4 linked regions of the Homo sapiens genome follow. The protein of the gene in region 1 purifies or fractionates together with the protein of each later gene. This does not show direct contact. Each region holds a gene or a part of one and is shown on either strand. Other genes may lie near its edges. The genes, in order: VNN1, COX18, XRCC1 and SEMA3C.

Evidence for each region.
Region 2: the proteins of VNN1 (region 1) and COX18 purify together in Homo sapiens (affinity purification with mass spectrometry; one large-scale study listed by BioGRID and IntAct). This does not show direct contact.
Region 3: the proteins of VNN1 (region 1) and XRCC1 purify together in Homo sapiens (affinity purification with mass spectrometry; one large-scale study listed by BioGRID and IntAct). This does not show direct contact.
Region 4: the proteins of VNN1 (region 1) and SEMA3C purify together in Homo sapiens (affinity purification with mass spectrometry; one large-scale study listed by BioGRID and IntAct). This does not show direct contact.

The regions. Positions count from the first base shown.
Region 1 is NC_000006.12:132,689,289-132,693,907, reverse strand, and holds part of VNN1 (pantetheinase precursor), read left to right. Parts: intron 1-592; coding exon 593-884; intron 885-1,323; coding exon 1,324-1,685; intron 1,686-4,619. UniProt on the Homo sapiens protein: Amidohydrolase that hydrolyzes specifically one of the carboamide linkages in D-pantetheine thus recycling pantothenic acid (vitamin B5) and releasing cysteamine.
Region 2 is NC_000004.12:73,062,464-73,067,082, reverse strand, and holds part of COX18 (cytochrome c oxidase assembly protein COX18, mitochondrial), read left to right. Parts: intron 1-1,669; coding exon 1,670-1,833; intron 1,834-2,180; coding exon 2,181-2,305; intron 2,306-4,619. UniProt on the Homo sapiens protein: Mitochondrial membrane insertase required for the translocation of the C-terminus of cytochrome c oxidase subunit II (MT-CO2/COX2) across the mitochondrial inner membrane.
Region 3 is NC_000019.10:43,544,212-43,548,830, forward strand, and holds part of XRCC1 (DNA repair protein XRCC1), read right to left. Parts: intron 2,767-4,619; coding exon 2,673-2,766; intron 2,517-2,672; coding exon 2,384-2,516; intron 1,896-2,383; coding exon 1,841-1,895; intron 1,747-1,840; coding exon 1,607-1,746; intron 24-1,606; coding exon 1-23. UniProt on the Homo sapiens protein: Scaffold protein involved in DNA single-strand break repair by mediating the assembly of DNA break repair protein complexes. Negatively regulates ADP-ribosyltransferase activity of PARP1 during base-excision repair in order to prevent excessive PARP1 activity.
Region 4 is NC_000007.14:80,908,509-80,913,127, forward strand, and holds part of SEMA3C (semaphorin-3C isoform 2 precursor), read right to left. Parts: intron 1-4,619. UniProt on the Homo sapiens protein: Binds to plexin family members and plays an important role in the regulation of developmental processes. Required for normal cardiovascular development during embryogenesis.

The sequences.
Region 1 (4,619 bases):
GATAAGCACACTTTAGAAATCGAGTAGGGGCAAAGCATAGAAAGTAATGATAAAGCGTGGAAAGCTCCTATAAAGAGGCTTAAGGGGTTCCGTGTACATATAAGAACACAGGAGTGTGTTTTCAGGAGTGTGTAGCAGTCAGAAAGTGCCGCATGCATTATGTTGCCTAATGTTGCCTTTTGGACTTTGTCCTTTTAAAGGCATACCCTGGCAATGGGTCAAGGCTAGAATGAAAAACTGCTTACCACATAGACTCTGTCTTGAGGAGAATGGAACAAACAAAGTTCCTTGCCAAGGAAAACAGTTAAGTCTACTTGGCAAACAGAAGTAATCTATTTTATGTCTTATAAGATTCCAGTGGGTCTTTATAGATAAAGATACCCATGTACATATTTGTAATGTGGAGACTGAACTAAAGGCCCAGTTTAGCTAGAATGGCCTCTGATTCTCTAAAGCAAACTCATTTCCCATGAAAACACTGATCATAGATGAAATTGGCACTAAGATGTGAGCTTGTACTTTTTCCCACACTGTGATGTCCAGATCAACTTCCTAAAATAATTTTTTTCTCTTTATCTTCTGTTTATTGCAGCAAAACCTTTTCATGGGTGAAAATCAATTCAATGTACCCAAGGAGCCTGAGATTGTGACTTTCAATACCACCTTTGGAAGTTTTGGCATTTTCACATGCTTTGATATACTCTTCCATGATCCTGCTGTTACCTTGGTGAAAGATTTCCACGTGGACACCATAGTATTCCCAACAGCTTGGATGAATGTTTTGCCACATTTGTCAGCTGTTGAATTCCACTCAGCTTGGGCTATGGGCATGAGGGTCAATTTCCTTGCATCCAACATACATTACCCCTCAAAGAAAATGACAGGTAATGTGTGATCTTAAAGATATGCAGGCTGATGTAATCAGAAAAGAAAAGAAAAAAAAAACATGTTTTTCTAGCTAACGCATACTCCTTAATACAATGTTTTCCAGCTCTTAATTTTTGAACATCTAGCTGTTAATATGCTATAGAATCAATCTCAGTCTAAATTGTTTTGTAGATTTATTTGGTTTTATTTAACTTGATTTTTTTTTCAAAATATATGACTTCTTACATACAACTCTCCCTTCTTGGCTTCTTGGTTTCATACTTTAATTGATTTCCTCTCACTTCTCTGTCTTTATCAGCATGTTTTACTGAAATTAATAAAACATATAACTTAGAGAGAGTAAAATGTGAATATGAGGTTAAAATAGTAATAACAATTATGAAATCCCTTTTTACTTTCCAATTTCAAATGATGTTTTCAACTTATTACTTCCAGGAAGTGGCATCTATGCACCCAATTCTTCAAGAGCATTTCATTATGATATGAAGACAGAAGAGGGAAAACTCCTCCTCTCGCAACTGGATTCCCACCCATCCCATTCTGCAGTGGTGAACTGGACTTCCTATGCCAGCAGTATAGAAGCGCTCTCATCAGGAAACAAGGAATTTAAAGGCACTGTCTTTTTCGATGAATTCACTTTTGTGAAGCTCACAGGAGTTGCAGGAAATTATACAGTTTGTCAGAAAGATCTCTGCTGTCATTTAAGCTACAAAATGTCTGAGAACATACCAAATGAAGTGTACGCTCTAGGGGCATTTGACGGACTGCACACTGTGGAAGGGCGCTATTATCTACAGGTAATATTTTGATGTCAGAAGAGTTACTGGATAAAATAAAGACACTCAGTTAAATATACAGTTTAGATAAATAATGAATGATTTTTTAGTATAAGCATATCACACTTTTGGGGATTTATGTATGCTAAAAATTTTGTTGTTTATTTGAAATTCAACTTTAGCTGGGAAGCCTACAAATACAGGCTAAATTTATTTGCTAAATCTTTTTTTTTTTTTTTTGAGACAGAGTCTCACTCTGTAGCCCAAGCTGGAGTGCAGTGGTGCATCAGCTCACTGCAAGCTCTGCCTCCTCGGCCAAGCAATTCTCACGCCTCAGCCTCCCAAGTAGCTGGGACTACAGGCGAGTGCCACCATGCCTGGCTAATTTTTTTGTTGTTGTTGTATTTTAGTAGAGACAGAGTTTCACCATATTGGCCAGGGTGGTCTCAAACTCCCCGAGCTCAGGTGATCCGCCCACCTCAGCCTCCCAAAGTGTTGAGATTATAGGCATGAGCCACCGTGCCCTGCCTATTTGCTAAACCTTGAAACCTTAGATGTCAGTTCAATTTTAAGCTGATTGGGAAAAGGCAGGACATTTACTTGCAGTAGCAGTATTAAAAATAAATATTCAAATTACAGATCATTATAACAGGAGTTCATTGAAAACCCATTTTATTTCCTGCCTGAACAAATTAAGCCATTTTCCTTATATGTTCACAAATGCCTATCTTGCTTTATAAAGAGTTTGACACTAAGTATATCCTGGATATGAATGGGGTTGACCACCAAGATAGTTCAATGGAATGGTTTATTGCTGCAAAGATCCAATCTCTCATTGCTCGCAAGTGGCCTCCATGGTCCTCTCATTCTTCTCTTCTCTTCCTTGGTCTGGCCCCCATCTTATCTCACTTAACAGGGCTTCCTATTGACAGTCTGACAATCTCAGCTCCATCCAGTCAGTTCTCCATATTGTAGTTACAGAAATCACAAAAAGCTGTTTTTGATTATAATACTGTCTGGCTTAAAATTCTTCACTGACTTCTAATTGACAAATCAAATTTCTTAACATGAAAGACACACAAAGTCTAGATGTGTGGTCCCTTCCTATTCTCTATCCTCTAATCTCACTTCTACTTACAAATATCCTGGGCTTCTGCAATATTGAAATATTTTCCCATCTCCTATTTGCTAGCATATGCAGAACCTCAAGGTGTTTGCACAGATTGTTTGGTCCTTTATCCGTGGCGAGCCCCACCTACTAATCTTTCATAGCACTTTTCTGGTGTTATCGTCACCAAGAGGGGTTCCTGGATATTTCCCACAGAGCTACTCCTACCTCTCCAGATGAGTTAAGTACATCCTTTATGTGCTCCCAGGACACCCTATGCTTAGCTTTATCAAAGACATATTATGTCATAGTATTCACTTACTTATTTGAGACTGAGAACCCCTTGAGTGCTGAAATTATGCCAACTGCACAGTATTTTGTTTGCTCTATGATAACTACCCTAACAATACTTTTTCGTTTTAGCAAATGAAGGCCTACTATATGCCAGGTATTTATTTAGTGTTAATGATATGAAGATAAATAAGCATAGATCCTCCTCTTGAAGAATTCAGTCTTTAGTAATGGAGAAAGACATTTGAACAGATAATTTCAGCATAGGTTGGCATGTGATTGTCCGTAGAATGCACATTTTGCTGGAGGAGTACTAAAGAGCTCTACTTAGATTAATTTGGGAATGCAGGGAAGTTTCTGGAGCTGATGCTATTATCCAGGTGAAAAAGAGTAGGAGGGGATTCTTTGTGGTGTGAAGAGCATGAACAAGGGTGTGGATGCAGGCAGGAGCAGGGTCTGCAGGGAACAGCAACAGGTCAGTGCTACTAAGGCAACTGAGGCATGGCTTGCGAAGCTGGGTTTGGTGGGAAATAAGCCTGGAAGCAACATCCTGTCCTGCAGGATCTTACCTAGCACACTTAAGATTCAGCCTTTATTCTGTGGGTGATGGTCAGCTGGTGGAAGTGGTCCAGTGAAGGAATGATGTGGTCAGATCTACCTTTGAATATATCATTTTTACTACTCTGTAGATGATGGAGCAAAGACCCAAAAGACTAGATTATTAAAATAGTCTTATTAAGGGTCTGGACCAAGACTGTGTTTGTTGGAATAAAAGCAGGGCATGGAGTCTAGACATATTTAGAAAATGGAACTCAGTGGCCAATTTGATGTGGAACAGGAAAACGGAATGGAGAGTCCAGAATGTGGCAGATTTCTGGCAAGAATGGCTGGGTGGGTGAGATGCATCTGACAGATCAGGAGGCAAGAGAGGAGCAGACTCACTGACAGTGGGTAGAGGCTGAGTTCAGTTATAGATGTGCTGGTTTTGAAGTAGTTATGAGACATTCAGCTGGACCCAGCCAGTTGTCTGTTGAATACTTTGGTCTGATGCTTAAGGGAGATACTAGAATTAGAAATATTGTTTCAAAAATCAGCAAGATACAAGGGGCAATTAAGCAAACAACAGTGAATGATACGACAAAGGAGACTGTACTGACAGTAAAGAACTATTGACAAAGTAGAACCTTTGGGAGCTTCGGTATTTGGGGCAGGAAAGGACAGAGGACAAGAAACCTGCAAATACAATTAAGAAATAAAGGAAAATTTAAAAAGAGAACATCTGGTAGATGCCAAGGAAGTAGAGACTCTTGGAGGAAAGAAATCATGAGGTGTATTAACACAATACGTTGACCATTATTAGCATTTTTGAGTATAATTTTGGCAGAATTTTCTGAGCTCATAATGATAGGATGATGGGCAGATTATATTGGGTTGAAAAGTCAAAGGGAAGTGAATGCACTTTTTTCCCCAAGAAATCTTATCTGAGACAAGAAGAAGAGAAGCAAGACAATGGTTTAACAGAGACTCATGGTCAGGAGAAATGTGTGTGTATGTGT
Region 2 (4,619 bases), on another chromosome or scaffold:
AAGGATGTCTGCATTCATTCACTGGGAACTTACAAGCCCTCTTGCTTCAATCAACTCCTCAATCAGTTTCCCAAACTCTAATCCTTACTAGACTGCGAAAAATTATTCTCCTTTTTACAGCAATGGAAAAAGGCCTTTGTGGTATCAATCTGTGTTATGTGTATATTATTAACCATATATTTTTATATAGTTGTACATTTCCCAACTATCTTTAATACGAGATTGTGTCCTATATTTAGTGTTAAAAAGATCTGACATTTTAAAAAATCGTGGTGATAGCTTAATGTCTTTATTTGGTAAAAATTAAAAGTTGACCTATAGGTTTGAAATTTTACTTATCAAAGAAGTCGAAAGCTTCAGCCATAGGCCAAAAGAACCAGATTAATAGCTGCTTGCCTGGGTTATCAACGCAGCCTAGATAAGACTTGTGGCACCTTGCTTAAGCAGTACTGGCAGGATGGTTGTGCAGATACAGCCTTACAGATGTTTCTTTCTAGGAGGAAACATCTGAGGGCTTCTGGCATTTTCTTTTCTTTTCTTTTCTTTTTTGTTTTTTTGAACAAGACAGAATCTCCCTGTGTTGTGCAGGCTGATCTCAAACTCCTGGCCTCAAGCAATCCTCCCACTTTGGCCTCCCAAGTAGCTGGAATTACAAGTGCAAGCCACAGTGTTGGCCAGCTTCCTGCATTTTCAATAGTATTGAGTCTTGAAGGGTAAAAGACGGTGTGTCAGATGGACAGCCAGGAAAGTGGGCTTTCCACACAGATGATATAATACAGTACTTCCAAAGGCATGCCTATGCGGAAGTCTGATTTGTTGGATGAACTAAAGTCATTCAGACCAGAATATGCAGGTGTCTAGAGGAGTAACGAGATAAAATTGGAAGAATAGGCAAATGTGAAATTATGGAGGACCTAGAATGTCTTTGTGTACTGTCTTATTATACACTATAATTTGACTAAATTCAGAAAAACTATTGAATGCCTCCTCTGTACAAAATATATGATACAGGAGATTTAAAGATGAATAAAATAGAACACTGTCCCCTAAACTAAGAATACTTTAGTTTTTGTTTTTTAACTCCTATTCTCTTGGACCTGAAGGAAGACTGTATTCTAAAAAGTAAAATTTCAGGAAAAAACAGTAGTAACTAATATGGTTAACAGAGAAACAGATTAAAAATATCTTTGTGAGATAGTTGATTGAAAAATGGAGACTATTTTGACAGGCCAAGAGCATACACAGTATAAAACCACATAGCTCCAAAAGGTATATTCAGGGATGAAGTGGTTAAGTTTGGCGGGAGTGGAGAGATTTGATTAAAGTTTGCTTTTAGCTTCCATATTTCCAATATTAATTGTAGTTATACCATGTCAGTAGTGAAATTTACCTTTAAAGCCTAATCAGCCAAAGACCACCAGAGACAAAGCCTGTAGTCTGACAATTTCAGATTGTTATGTAACTTGTGTACCATACTGTAGAAGTTTTGATAAAAGGCTTTATTTGCCTGTTGTTTAGGCAACTCCTTAACATGCCTGTGACAGCTGAAACCCTTATACAAATCCTTTAGCTAATAACTACAGCAGGCGCTATTTGTGCTATGGAAATAAAGCACGATTCTTAGATGACATTTTCTCTTTCCCCTTTTTTCCCCCTAACCTCAATCTAGGCTCACTTATCTAAAGAATATGAGGAGGCTAATTTCAGAGCTATATGTGCGAGATAACTGCCACCCTTTCAAAGCCACTGTGTTGGTTTGGATTCAGCTTCCAATGTGGATCTTCATGTCTTTTGCTCTCCGGAATTTAAGCACGGGGGCAGCACATTCAGAAGGTAATTATTGTATGTCTTCTCCCAAAGAAGTTCTCTAACATTGTCTTTGTACTAAAAAAAAAAAAAAAAAAAAAAAAGCATACTTTTCATAATTACGATATGTTTACTATCTTCCTTATAAGGGTATAGAATTTAAAGTCTTAAGTGTAAACAGATTGGTTGTGTTGTGAACATTTTGTATTGAGAAAAAATATATATATTGTGCGTGAAAAACTGGAATAAATCCAGTGCAGATCTTTCCTGTGAGGGACACCTTATTGGAATTGTCAGACTACTTATTTATGTCTTATATATTTTTCTCTGCTATTTTTAGGACTTCTATTGTTTTATTTATAAAACTGTTTTAGCAGGTTTTTCTGTTCAGGAACAGTTAGCTACTGGTGGAATTCTGTGGTTTCCTGACCTCACTGCACCCGACTCCACTTGGATTCTGCCTATCTCTGTTGGCGTCATCAATTTGTTAATAGTGGAGGTCAGTAGTTTTAAATGAAATTTGTTTGCCATTTATGGGGATTTTTGTTGCTGCTGTTTTGACTTCAAATCTGTTTTTGTTTGAGTTGGTGAAGATAGCTCTGAGTTAGAAGTGAGATCCCTTGGTTCCTGGTTCCACGTCAGGCATTGGCTTAGGCCTGTCCCTTAACCTCTCTGGGCCTCAGAACTCTCGAAATTAAAGTAAAAGCACTAGTATACTTCCAAGTCTCTTTCAGCTTCAAAATTATATGATTCTGATACATAGAATTTTGTGACTTGCTTTTGGCAAAAACAGTAATAAAGATGCCCAGTCAATCTGGTTGTATTCTTAAAATAGAGTGATGTTCCGTGTGTGTGTTTAATATGTGAATTTGTAGGCGGAGAACACAAGTCAGGCCCTGACTGCTATTTTCTTGCTTTATGACCTTAGAAAAGTCATTGAATGTCTTTATAAGATGAAATGGGAAAAACATACACATAGAAAATGTGACCTCTCAGTCATGTCTTTTTTTTTCTTTTTTTTTTGAGATGGAGTTTTGCTCTTGTTGCCCAGGCCGGAGTGTAATGGCGCAGTCTTGGCTCACTGCAACCTCTGCCTCCTGAGTAGCTGGGATTATAGGCGCACACCACCACACCCGGCTAATTTTTGTATTTTTAGTAGAGACAGGGTTTCACCATGTTTGCCAGGCTGGTCTCGAACTCCTGACCTCAGGTGATCCACCCGCCTTGGCCTTCCAAAGTGCTGGGATTACAGGCATGAGCCACTGTGCCCAGCCCTCTCAGTCATGTCTTAACCCTTATCACAGGCTGCTTTACTCAGCAGTTTAGGGAAAGCGTGCATATAATTTCATAAATTGTTCTCAGACTCTGAGTAGAACAGACTGGACTGGAAGAAATCTTAAAAATGATTTACCTCAGTAGAGATCTCCCAGACCTCATGACCTCTGATGCCTGTTTGTGAAATCTAATATACCCCTTATTCTTTCAGATGAGGAAAATGGAGATGATAGAATATAAGGTCTTAAGTGAAAGTTTCTTGAGGAAAGACTCTACCTGTAGTCCAAATATGTTTCCCTAAGAGCACTAGCACAGTCCCCTGTGGTTGGTGTTCAGTGAATATTTGGTAGAAAGAAGGAAGTGATAAGCACAAGGTTACAGTGAATCAATGTCAATCCCCTAGTCTTTTCCTCTATGTCATCTAAAGACTAATAAAGGTGTTTTCATAGCGGGGCATGGTGGCGTGCGCCTCTAGTTCCAGCTACTTGGAAGCTGAGTCAGGAGGATTGTTTGAGCCCAAGAGATGGAGGCTGCAGTGAGTTGTGATCCCACCACTGTACTCTAGCCTGGGCGACAGAGAGAAAGACCTCACCTCTAAAAGAAAAATAAAAGCTTATTAAAAGCTTATTCTTACTCAACATACACTATGTGCAAGGCATTGTGTTTTTTGTTTGTTTGTTTGTTTGTTTTTTTCTTGAGACAGAGTCTCACTCTGTTTCCTAGGCTGGAGTGCAGTGGTGTGATCTCCACTCACTGCAACCTCCACCTCCCAGGTTCAGGTGATTCTCTTGTCTCAGCCTCTCGAGTAGCTGGGATTACAGGCGCCCGCCAACACACCCAGCTAATTTTTTGTATTTTTAGTAGAGACTGGGTTTTACCATGTTGGCCAGGCTGGTCTGGAACTCCTGACCTCAAATGATCCGCCCGCCTCAGCCTCCCAAAGTGCTGGAATTACAGGTGTGAGCCACTGTGCCTGGCCATAGGCATTGTTATAAGCAATTTACATAAATCAACTCATTTACTTCTTGGAATAACCCTGTGAGCTAAATATTATCCTTTTTTAATGCAGAGAAAGTGAGGCATAAAAATGTAAAACTACGTAGTTTGGCTCTAGAGTCATAATTATGGAGAAGTCTTTTTTTTTTTTTCCTTCTTTTCTTTTTTTTGGAGACGGTCTTACTCTGTCACCCAGGCTGGAGTGCAGTGGCGTGATCTCAGCTCACTGCAACCTGTGCCTTCCAGGCTTAAGCGATCCTCCCACCTCAGCCTCCCTCCTGAATAGCTGGGACTGCAGACATGCCACCACGCCCAGCTAATTTTTGTATTTTCTGTAGAGATGGTTTCGCTATGTTGCCTAATTGCCTAGGCTGGTCTCAAACTCCTGAGCTCAAACAATCGGCCTGCCTGGGCCTCCCAGTTCTGGGATTACAGGCCCCCAGCCTTACGCAGAATTCTTAAGTGGAGCTTGAAGAATCCTGTGACAGTAGCTACCATATAAATCATTGTTAAGTGGAGCTTGAAGAATCCTGTGACAATAG
Region 3 (4,619 bases), on another chromosome or scaffold:
GAAGTGCTTGCCCTGGAAGAAATCTGCAGGAGAGAAGGGGGCTAAGGTAAGCATGAGGCCCCAGGAGTTCCCAGGCACCAAACAGGAGTGACGAGGCTGACCCAGCAGCTGAGGAGAGGGCTGTCCACATGTGGGCAGGGATTGATGGCAGGCAGTGGACCCTGCCCAGCGGCCCATCAGAGCCTCCTGGGGAGGTAGGTTGGTTGGTTGGTTGGTTTGCTTTAATGGTAGAAGATACAATGCCTATTATTGTGATTTGTTTCTGACCGACAGGCTGGAGCCACTTACCTCTCTCTCTCTCTTTTTTTTTTTTAAGACAAGGACTCACTCTGTCGCCCAGGCTGGAGTGCAGTGGCGTGATCTTGCCTCACTGCAACCTCTGCCTCCTGGGCTCAAGTGATTCTCCCATCTCAGCCTCCCCAGTAGCTGGGACTACAGGTGCATGCCACCAAGCCAGACTAATTTTTAAACTTTTTGTAGAGAGACGGGGTATTGACATGTTGCTCAGGCTGGTCTCAAACTCTTGGGCTCAAGCAATCCTCCCACCTCAGCCTCCTGAGTAGCCAGGACTACTGAGTAGCACACCACCACGCTCGGCTAATTTTTAAAATGTTTTGTAAAGGCGGGGGTCGGGGGGGGTCTCACTATGTTGCCCAGGCTGGTCTTGAACTCTTGGACTCAAGCAGTCCTCCCACCTCGGCCTCTCAAAGTACGGGGTGAGCCACCACGCCTGGCCTGCCTGGAGCCACTTAATGAGCTTAGTCCAGGCTGAAAACGTCAGTATCTGCCACTTCTTCACCTTTGCTCTCCTTTCCAACCAGTGCCTTTCTTGTTCTGACCTTTGGGGTGGCTCCTTCTTTCCATTTTAAGGTGACTCTCTAGGCCATCAATTTGCTGATGCCACTTTAGGGGCTTGGGAGAATCAAAGCATCTTCCTGCCCATCACCCACGAGGAACTGGGTGGAAACGGCTCTTCTGGAAGCCCCAGAACCACACCTCTGCACAGCCCGTGACTGTCTTTCCTCTGCTCCCTTCATTCTCGAAGAAGCTCTGCCTCCCTGCCCCTCATCCCACAACTCCCTGCAGAGTTTCCCCATTTCCTTTTGTTCTTATTCTTTTACACTGGAAATGCAAACACACAATGTGTGCAGACAGCATCCACGTCCAGAGTGATGGCTGATGTTAAAGCAGACACTGGTGTGCACCCACCCAGGGCCTGACAGAGAGCAGTGCCCCTGTCACCTGGTGTGCCCGGCTTCACCCCAGACCAACAGAACGGCACCTGAGCAAGTGAAGCACTAGCATGAGGGTGGGGCCCTCACCCCTGACGTGAAAAAAAGGAGGTCACACCTGGCACATGGCTGCGAGGGGAGTGGTCAGAACAAGAAATCTGGAGGGGAGAAAAAGGCAAGTCACAGAGAGGATGCTGAAAGGAAAGGAACAAGCCTGGCAGAACCTGAAGGTGCTGAGGCAGGGAGTGGGTTGAGGAAGGAGAGGGGAGGCAAGACACGGGGGCAGCAGTGACCCCAGGGCTGGCCAGGGCAAGTCCCAGCTGAGAACTGAGAAGAGAAAATGCCACTTCAGGAGGGATGGGGGGATTTCCCACCTGGGAGCTCAGGGACTGGCAGATCAGGAGGCTCCTGGTGTTCCTCACTGTCCGTGTTCTCATCCGTGGAGCCTGCATACGGGTCTTCCCCATTCTCCTCCTGGCCAGGGGGCAGTCTGTGTTCCTTCTGCTCTGCCACCCTGGGGGTGCCAAGAGGAGTAGAGAGTGAGCATGCAGAGCAGCCTCCCCTACACCCAAGGCCAGGGACACCCCAACCCCCAGCCCCAGCCCTACCTCCTCAGCTCATCCTCTGTGTCCCCAGAATCTTCCGCCCCATTGTCCTGTCCTTCTGCAAGTAGAAGCTCAGTCAATGCAAGGCTGCCTTGTCTCCTGGGAAGACTGGCAGCTCTCCCAGTATGGCACAGACCCAGGCATCTCATGCCCCCAGCCTCAACTGCCCTCCAGATCCAGTCGTCTGGGCCCCCAGCCCCTCCTCCCTCTGATCCAGGAGTCCAGGCCCCAGCCCCTCCTCCCTCAGACCCAGGAGTCCAGGACTCAGCCCTTCCTCCCTCAGACACAGGAGTCCAGCCCCCAGCCCCTCCTCCCTCAGACCCAGAAGCCCAGGCCCCCAGCCCCTCCTCCCTCAGACCCAGGAGTCCAGGCCCCCAGCCCCTCATCCCTCAGACCCAGGAGTCCAGGTCCCCAGGCTCTCTTCCCTCAGACTCAGGAGTCCAGGCCCCAGCCCCTCCTCCCTCAGACTCAGGAGCCCAGGCCGCAGGCCCTCCTCCCTCAGACTCAGGAGCCCAGGCCCCAGCCCCTCCTCCCTCAGAGTCTGACCTGACTGTACCCCCTCAATGTCTATATCTTCCTGGAGCACTGGTGAGGCTGCTTTGGTCTCTTCAGGGGTTGGGGGCTTCTGGGGTGAGCTGGGTCCAGCTGCCTGAGTGGGCTTGGTTTTGGTCTGGGGTTGCTAAGGAGGGAGAGTGGGTGGGTGAGGAGGGCAGGAACAGTGTGGGTGTGTTGGGGGGGTACCTGCAAGAGGCAAGAGTGGGAAGTTTGGGGTGCCACAGCGGACTCATGTCATCCTCCCACTACACCCTCCCCCACTGGACAGGGGGCATCAGACCTTCTGAGGAAGCTTGGGGGCTTCATCTCCGCTGCCACCGCTGTGAGAGGCCTCATCCTCCTCACTGCTGGAACCTGGCCCTGCCATGAGGTACCTAGGGGACAAATCGGGCCTCAGACAAACAGGCCCAAGGGAAGTGGGGAGGGCGTTCAGGAGGCAACAGCCATTGGCATTTACTAAAATACTCACTCTAGTGGGCCTCATGGTCTTGTTCCCAGCCCATTCTCTCCCAGCTCAGGAAGGCCCCAGTGAACCCAGTCAGTCTGGCCACCTGCCCTGCAGACCTGGGTACCCCCTTTCTTCCCCTCCCTCTTTTTTTTTTTGAGACAGAGTCCATTCCATCGCCAGGCTGGAGTGCAGTGGCCTCATCTCGGCTCACTGCAATCTCTGCCTCCAGGTTCGAGCGACTCCCCTGCCTCAGCCTCCCTAGTAGCTGGGATTACAGGTGCACACCACCATGCCCCGCCAACTTTTTGTATTTTAGTAGAGACACGGTTTCACCATGTTGGCCAGGATGGTCTCGATCTCCTGACCTCATGCTCTGCCCCCGTCAGCCTCTGAAAGTGCTGGAATTACAGGCGTTAGCCACCACTCCTGGCCGCTTTTTTTTTTTTTTAGACAAGATCTCACTCTGTCACCCAGGATAGAGTGCAGTGGCGTGATCTTGGCTCACTGCAACCTCCACCTCCCAGGGTTCGAGCGAGTCTCCTGCCTCAGCCTCCCCAGTAACTGCGATTACAGGCATGTGCCACCACGCCTGGCTAATTTTGTGTTTTTTGTGTTGTTTTGTTTTTTAAGTACATACGAGGTTTCATCACGTTGGCCAGGATGGTCTCGAACTCCTGACCTCGAGTGATCCACCCACCTCAGCCTCCCAAAGTGCTGGGATTACAGGCATGAACCACAGTACCCAGAATTCCCCTCCCTCTTGGGGAAGAAATGTCTCAATTCAGAAAGGAATGAAAAATCAGAACTTTCTCCTTTAAGAATCAAAGGCAGTTTCTCATTAGGAAAATACCCACCATTTAAGGGGAAAATCTCAAAGCAAACACATTTTAAAGACTACAACACTATAATCATGGTTCCTTAAGCCACTAACATTCCAGGAAAAGGATTTTCCTAGCTCTAACAACAGTAGCAGGTTCCCGTCCGGGAGGGAGGTGGGGGGCCAGCCGCCCCGTCGGGGGGGAGGTGGGGGGCCAGCCGCCCCATCCGGGAGGGAGGTGGGGGGGTCAGCCCCCGCCCGGCCAGCCGCCCCTCCAGGAGGGAGGTGGGGGGCGCCTCCGCCCGGCCGCCGCCCCGTCCGGGAGGTGGGGGGCGCCTCTGCCCGGCCGCCCCTTCTGGGAAGTGAGGAGCCCCTCTGCCTGGCCACCACCCCGTCTGGGAGGTGTACCCAACAGCTCATTGAGAACGGGCCATGATGACGATGGCGGTTTTGTGGAATAGAAAAGGGGGAAAGGTGGGGAAAAGATAGAGAAATCAGATTGTTGCTGTGTCTGTGTAGAAAGAAGTAGACATGGGAGACTTCATTTTGTTCTGTACTAAGAAAAATTCTTCTGCCTTGGGATGCTGTTAATCTATGACCTTACCCTCAACCCTGTGCTCTCTGAAACATGTGTTGTGTCCACTCAGGGTTAAATGGATTAAGGGCGGTGCAAGATGTGCTTTGTTAAACAGATGCTTGAAGGCAGCATGCTCATTAAGAGTCATCACCACTCCCTAATCTCAAGTACCCAGGGACACAAACACTGCGGAAGGCCGCAGGGTCCTCTGCCTAGGAAAGCCAGAGACCTTTGTTCACTTGTTTATCTGCTGACCTTCCCTTCACTATTGTCCTATGACCCTGCCAAATCCCCCTCTGTGAGAAACACCCAAGAATGATCAAAAAAAAAAAAAAAAAAAACACAACAGTAGCAGGTTGACACTTACATGGGACTTCCTACATGC
Region 4 (4,619 bases), on another chromosome or scaffold:
TAGTAACACTAGCAACTTGGGTTGCAAGACTTCGCTGGCTGGAAAAAAAGAAAAGCAGGCGTAGAGAGCAAATTTAGGTACTTATCTTATTGATGCTTTACATATTATGTGCCCCATTGACTCCCTTTACATCCCCGTTATCTGTGCTAGGGATGGATTACTTCCTTTTTGCGGGTTGCTATTCAACAACTCATTTTGTTCTCACTATCACCAGCTGTCAGAAAAATGGGAGGGAGACAGGGCTCAAATTCACAAGTCACCAGAGTTTCTTGTCCTGGTCCTCAGCTTGCTTGCACTAAAAGCTGTCACTATATAAGTGTTACAATAATGTTTTAAGTAATAAAGTGTTCACCAAACTAATGATCCAATTATATAATTACAAATCTGTGGTTATTCATAAATTTAAAATAAGAAAACATATAAATAATGCATTTAAAATGATACCAGGAATACAACAGCTTTTTTCTGACTGAACAGTTTTTGTTATATGAATATACAAGAGAGTATACACTTAGGAAAGACTAAAACGGTATTCAAATATAATGTAATTTTACTCATAGACGATGTGAGTGTGTGTATGTGTGTGTGTGAGAGAGTTCTGCATTTATTTTTACTCAGATATATATCCTCTCTCCATAATTAATTCTATCTGTAGAAAGTCAAAATCTATAAGGAAATAAGTTTTTCCTAAAATAATTTAGAAGTTGCTTCTTCAGAGCTATTAATTCTACATAGAGTTAAGGTTTTCTTTCTGCTGGATCAACATTCTGTCTCCCTTCTCTGAGGAACAGAAATCTTCTGTAAAATTACATTGCTGTAACTCCCTGAGTTTATCTATTCCATATAGACTAGAGACTTTACATTAGCCATTATATTACAAATAAGGTTAAATATAAGAGCAATCTTGTATTCAAAATTCAAAGTCTGGTACCTGATCATTTTTATCAGAAAATAGTTGTACTAAGGTAGTAATTTAGAAATTAATTAGGTAGAATGTTTTATACTTTTATTATCAAGAATCTTAAATGCTAGCAAGCGTTAAAGTTGAGTAAGGCAAGAATATTTAGCATTTTCAGTGGCATCAGTTCAAACCAGAACATAAGATTACTTTAATGGATTTTTCACTCTAAGGCAATACATAAATGAGCAGAGTGGAATATTCTAGGGATTGACTAAGGGGAATATGGAATCCTGATGTACATAGCACATCAAACGAGCTCTTGATTACAAGAGCAGTAACTTGGGGAAGGAAAGACAAGACTAGTATGTTCATTAATTTGCATGAATTAGAGATAAATGAAAATATAAATTATTCTTATTTATGTATTGCCTCAATCTTCGCAAAGAGAATTGAGAGGCACTTAAAATATGGTGTTGAACAGATTTAAAGCCTGATATATAATGATCCTCAAATTACTGCTGAAAATCAGCAGTTAATTAAAAATGTAAGGTATGTTAAAGCTACAGTGTTGTACATACTTGGAGAAGAAATATCATGAAGCAAGTTGTTAATACTCATATTAATAGCCTTGCATTTCTGCAGATTTTGTAACATACATTTGCAGGGTATCTCTGATTCTATACAAGCACTGCTCATAATTAATTTTTCTCTTCTTATACCATTTTGTCTTCTAGTCTTGTCAATGCCACCATTAAGCTGTAGAACCTTAACCAAGAGCTTTAGCCTCCATGCCAATTTACTTCATAGGCATTCTATAATAAATTAAATAATAAGGGAATTATTTGAAAAGTAAAAAGCATTTTACAGAAGTAACATATCCCTATTGAGAGCTTAAAGACAGCTCATTCTCATTGGATAAGGAGGATGGGTTGAAATGATTGTTTCTGAAAAGCCTGCAATTTAAAACGTGGAACATACTTGCCATCTTTTACAGCTCAGCAAATTGTTTCATGGCTAGTGCTACCCTAAAATAGCACATGGCTCAGCACTTAGTTCTACCTTCCATGTGCCCTTCTTGCTAACTCATACTCTGAGCTACAGAACATCTTACCTTTCTGTTCCTTGCCTTTAAATGTGTTTTCCTTAACAACAGAGGTCTTCAGTAATATATAAATGAAAATGCAGAAGGCAAAAAAGTGCTGGAATCTGCCCAAAGCTCACAGCTCTATTTCCCAATGCTCGTTCTTTTTTTTTTTTTTTTTAACAGTAATGGAACTAAAACCAAAGTGATAGTTCTTTATTATAGCAAAGTGATAGTTTTTTTATTTAAAATAAGTTATTTTTTACAACCTCCTTATATAAAAGATGTTTATGAAAGAAAAAATTGAGTGTGTCTCGGTGCCATTTTTTTAATGCAATGAATGATATCCATGAAAAAGAACATCTGAATCTTTTGTTTTAAAAGACAGTGCAAGGTATAGTGAATTTATGGAGATACATCCTGATAAATTTGCATAATGAAATGAGGAGAGTGTATAATAATTTTTTTCTACTGTTATCCATCTAAGCACTGACTTGCTCGCATAGGCACAAAGGGAGATCTCAGTTACAGCAACAAAATAAACATGTTCCAGAGAGGTAATTCCCCTCATCTTCACCTTGATGAATCATAAATTAAAGGGGGAATTTGGGATGATATAGGGAATGAATTTTATTTCATTTTCAGGCAGGTTTGATGTTCTAAGAGCAATGTAAAATTCTAGCATGACATAGTTAACATGATATGTTTACAGAATATCTTACTGAGAAAAATTCTTTTCCTTTTTCCTTTCATTGTGATCTTTGTGGATCTTAAAACTAATTCTCATGGCAGCTACAGAAATGGCTGCCACAAAGTCAGTATTAATGTTAGTGTTTAATTGCCAAAACTATTTTAGAAACAAAGAAGACAAAAAGTAGTATACACCTAGGAAGAATGCGAAAATGTATAACTTTGGTTCTAGATATATCTTCTGAATCAAAATTGCAAATAAAGGCTAAGTAACATCGTTTTATCAATATATGTGAACAACATATCAACATATATGATCAACATGTGAACAAATTTAAAATAAGCTATCTAGGATCACTTGCACCATCTTCATTTGATAAAGAGTTCAATTTAGTAAACATGTTTAGGCATGTCTATTAATTCATAGAATAGGACCTTTTTTTTTTTTTTTGAAAGAGAGTCTCACTCTCTTGCTCAGGCTGGAGTACAATGGCTCAGGCTGGAGTACAATGGCACGACCTCGACTCACTGCAAGCTCTGCCTCCCGAGTTTATGCCATTCTCCTGCCTCAGCCTCCCGAGTAGCTAGGACTACAGGTGGCCACCACCATGCCTGGCTAATTTTTTGTATTTTTAGTAGAGACGGGGTATCACCACGATAGCCAGCATGATCTTGATCTCCTGACCTCGTGATCCACCCGCCTTGGCCTCCCAAAGTGCTAGGATTACAGGCGTGAGCCCCCGTGCTCGACCACATTTTTTTTTAATGGAACCGCTGTGTTCGTATGACCGATTAACAAAACACTCAAGCTCACTCTTCTAACTTCAGAACACTAAAGCATTCCTTCTTTGCTCCCAATTGTAGGAACCTTGTAACTCTGAATGGCTTAACACAGAATATCATTTATTGGCAACAGAATCAAGCTTATTATAATCTGATGAAACTCACCTGGAACAGTAATTACTTTTTTAAACAGGAAAATATAGGCTTACACATTTTTCTAAAATTTTTTCTCTAGGAGAAATCCACAGCATATCAATGTAACACCTTTTATCCTAAAATTTTCAAGAGATGTTCTTTGCAATACCTGAAATAAAATTTCCTCCCTCCAATTCAAGTCTACTAGAAATATTATTTTATTTTGATTACCAGAGCCCTATATCAATACATATTACAGGGGAAAATAGACATACGAGGCTACATTTCTTAGCAATTCTTCTCATCTTCCATTGCAATTGTATTTTATAACAGTTTTTACCTTGCTGCTTTACAAATTTAGTGTTACTCTATTCTAGACTCATGTTTCAGGTAATGTCCAACTCACAAGTGAATTCATCAATCCTTTGCTGAGTTCAATTAAACTCTCACAAGGGGGAGAGTAGAAGGAACTTTTTATTCACAGAGCACCCCTTGAGTTTGGGTTTACTAAAACACTCATGTGTGCTTCAAGATATTTCAGTGACATTTAATTGAAACCATCATAAGGAGACTTAAAAGAAAATGCCATAACACACACCTGAGAACTAAATACTTCTCAGTAACACAAACCTGAGAAGATTCAATACACCCAGAGTAAGCATCTTCCAAGATTAACGGAGAAATCAAGAACAACTGCTTTTATTTTCATTTCTTGGGCAACCACAACAAAAACTATTTCAACAAACGTGCCTTGTAATGCTAATGCTACCAGAGCTCATAAAGAGGCAATTTATTATTTTCAGTTTATTGTCCAATAACAATTCATCAGCTTTGGGGCTTAGTTCATTAGTTCACAGGGATTCTTTTATTTGTTGAGGGTGATTTTAAAAGATGTTTTATAAAATTCCATAGTCTTTCATTTACATACTATCAAAGACCTGGAGACTTTGGCAGCTTTATTACTAAAAATTCAGCACACACAAAAGGGAAAATGAATCACAAAGTAAATAAATAAAACAGGGCCAGGCG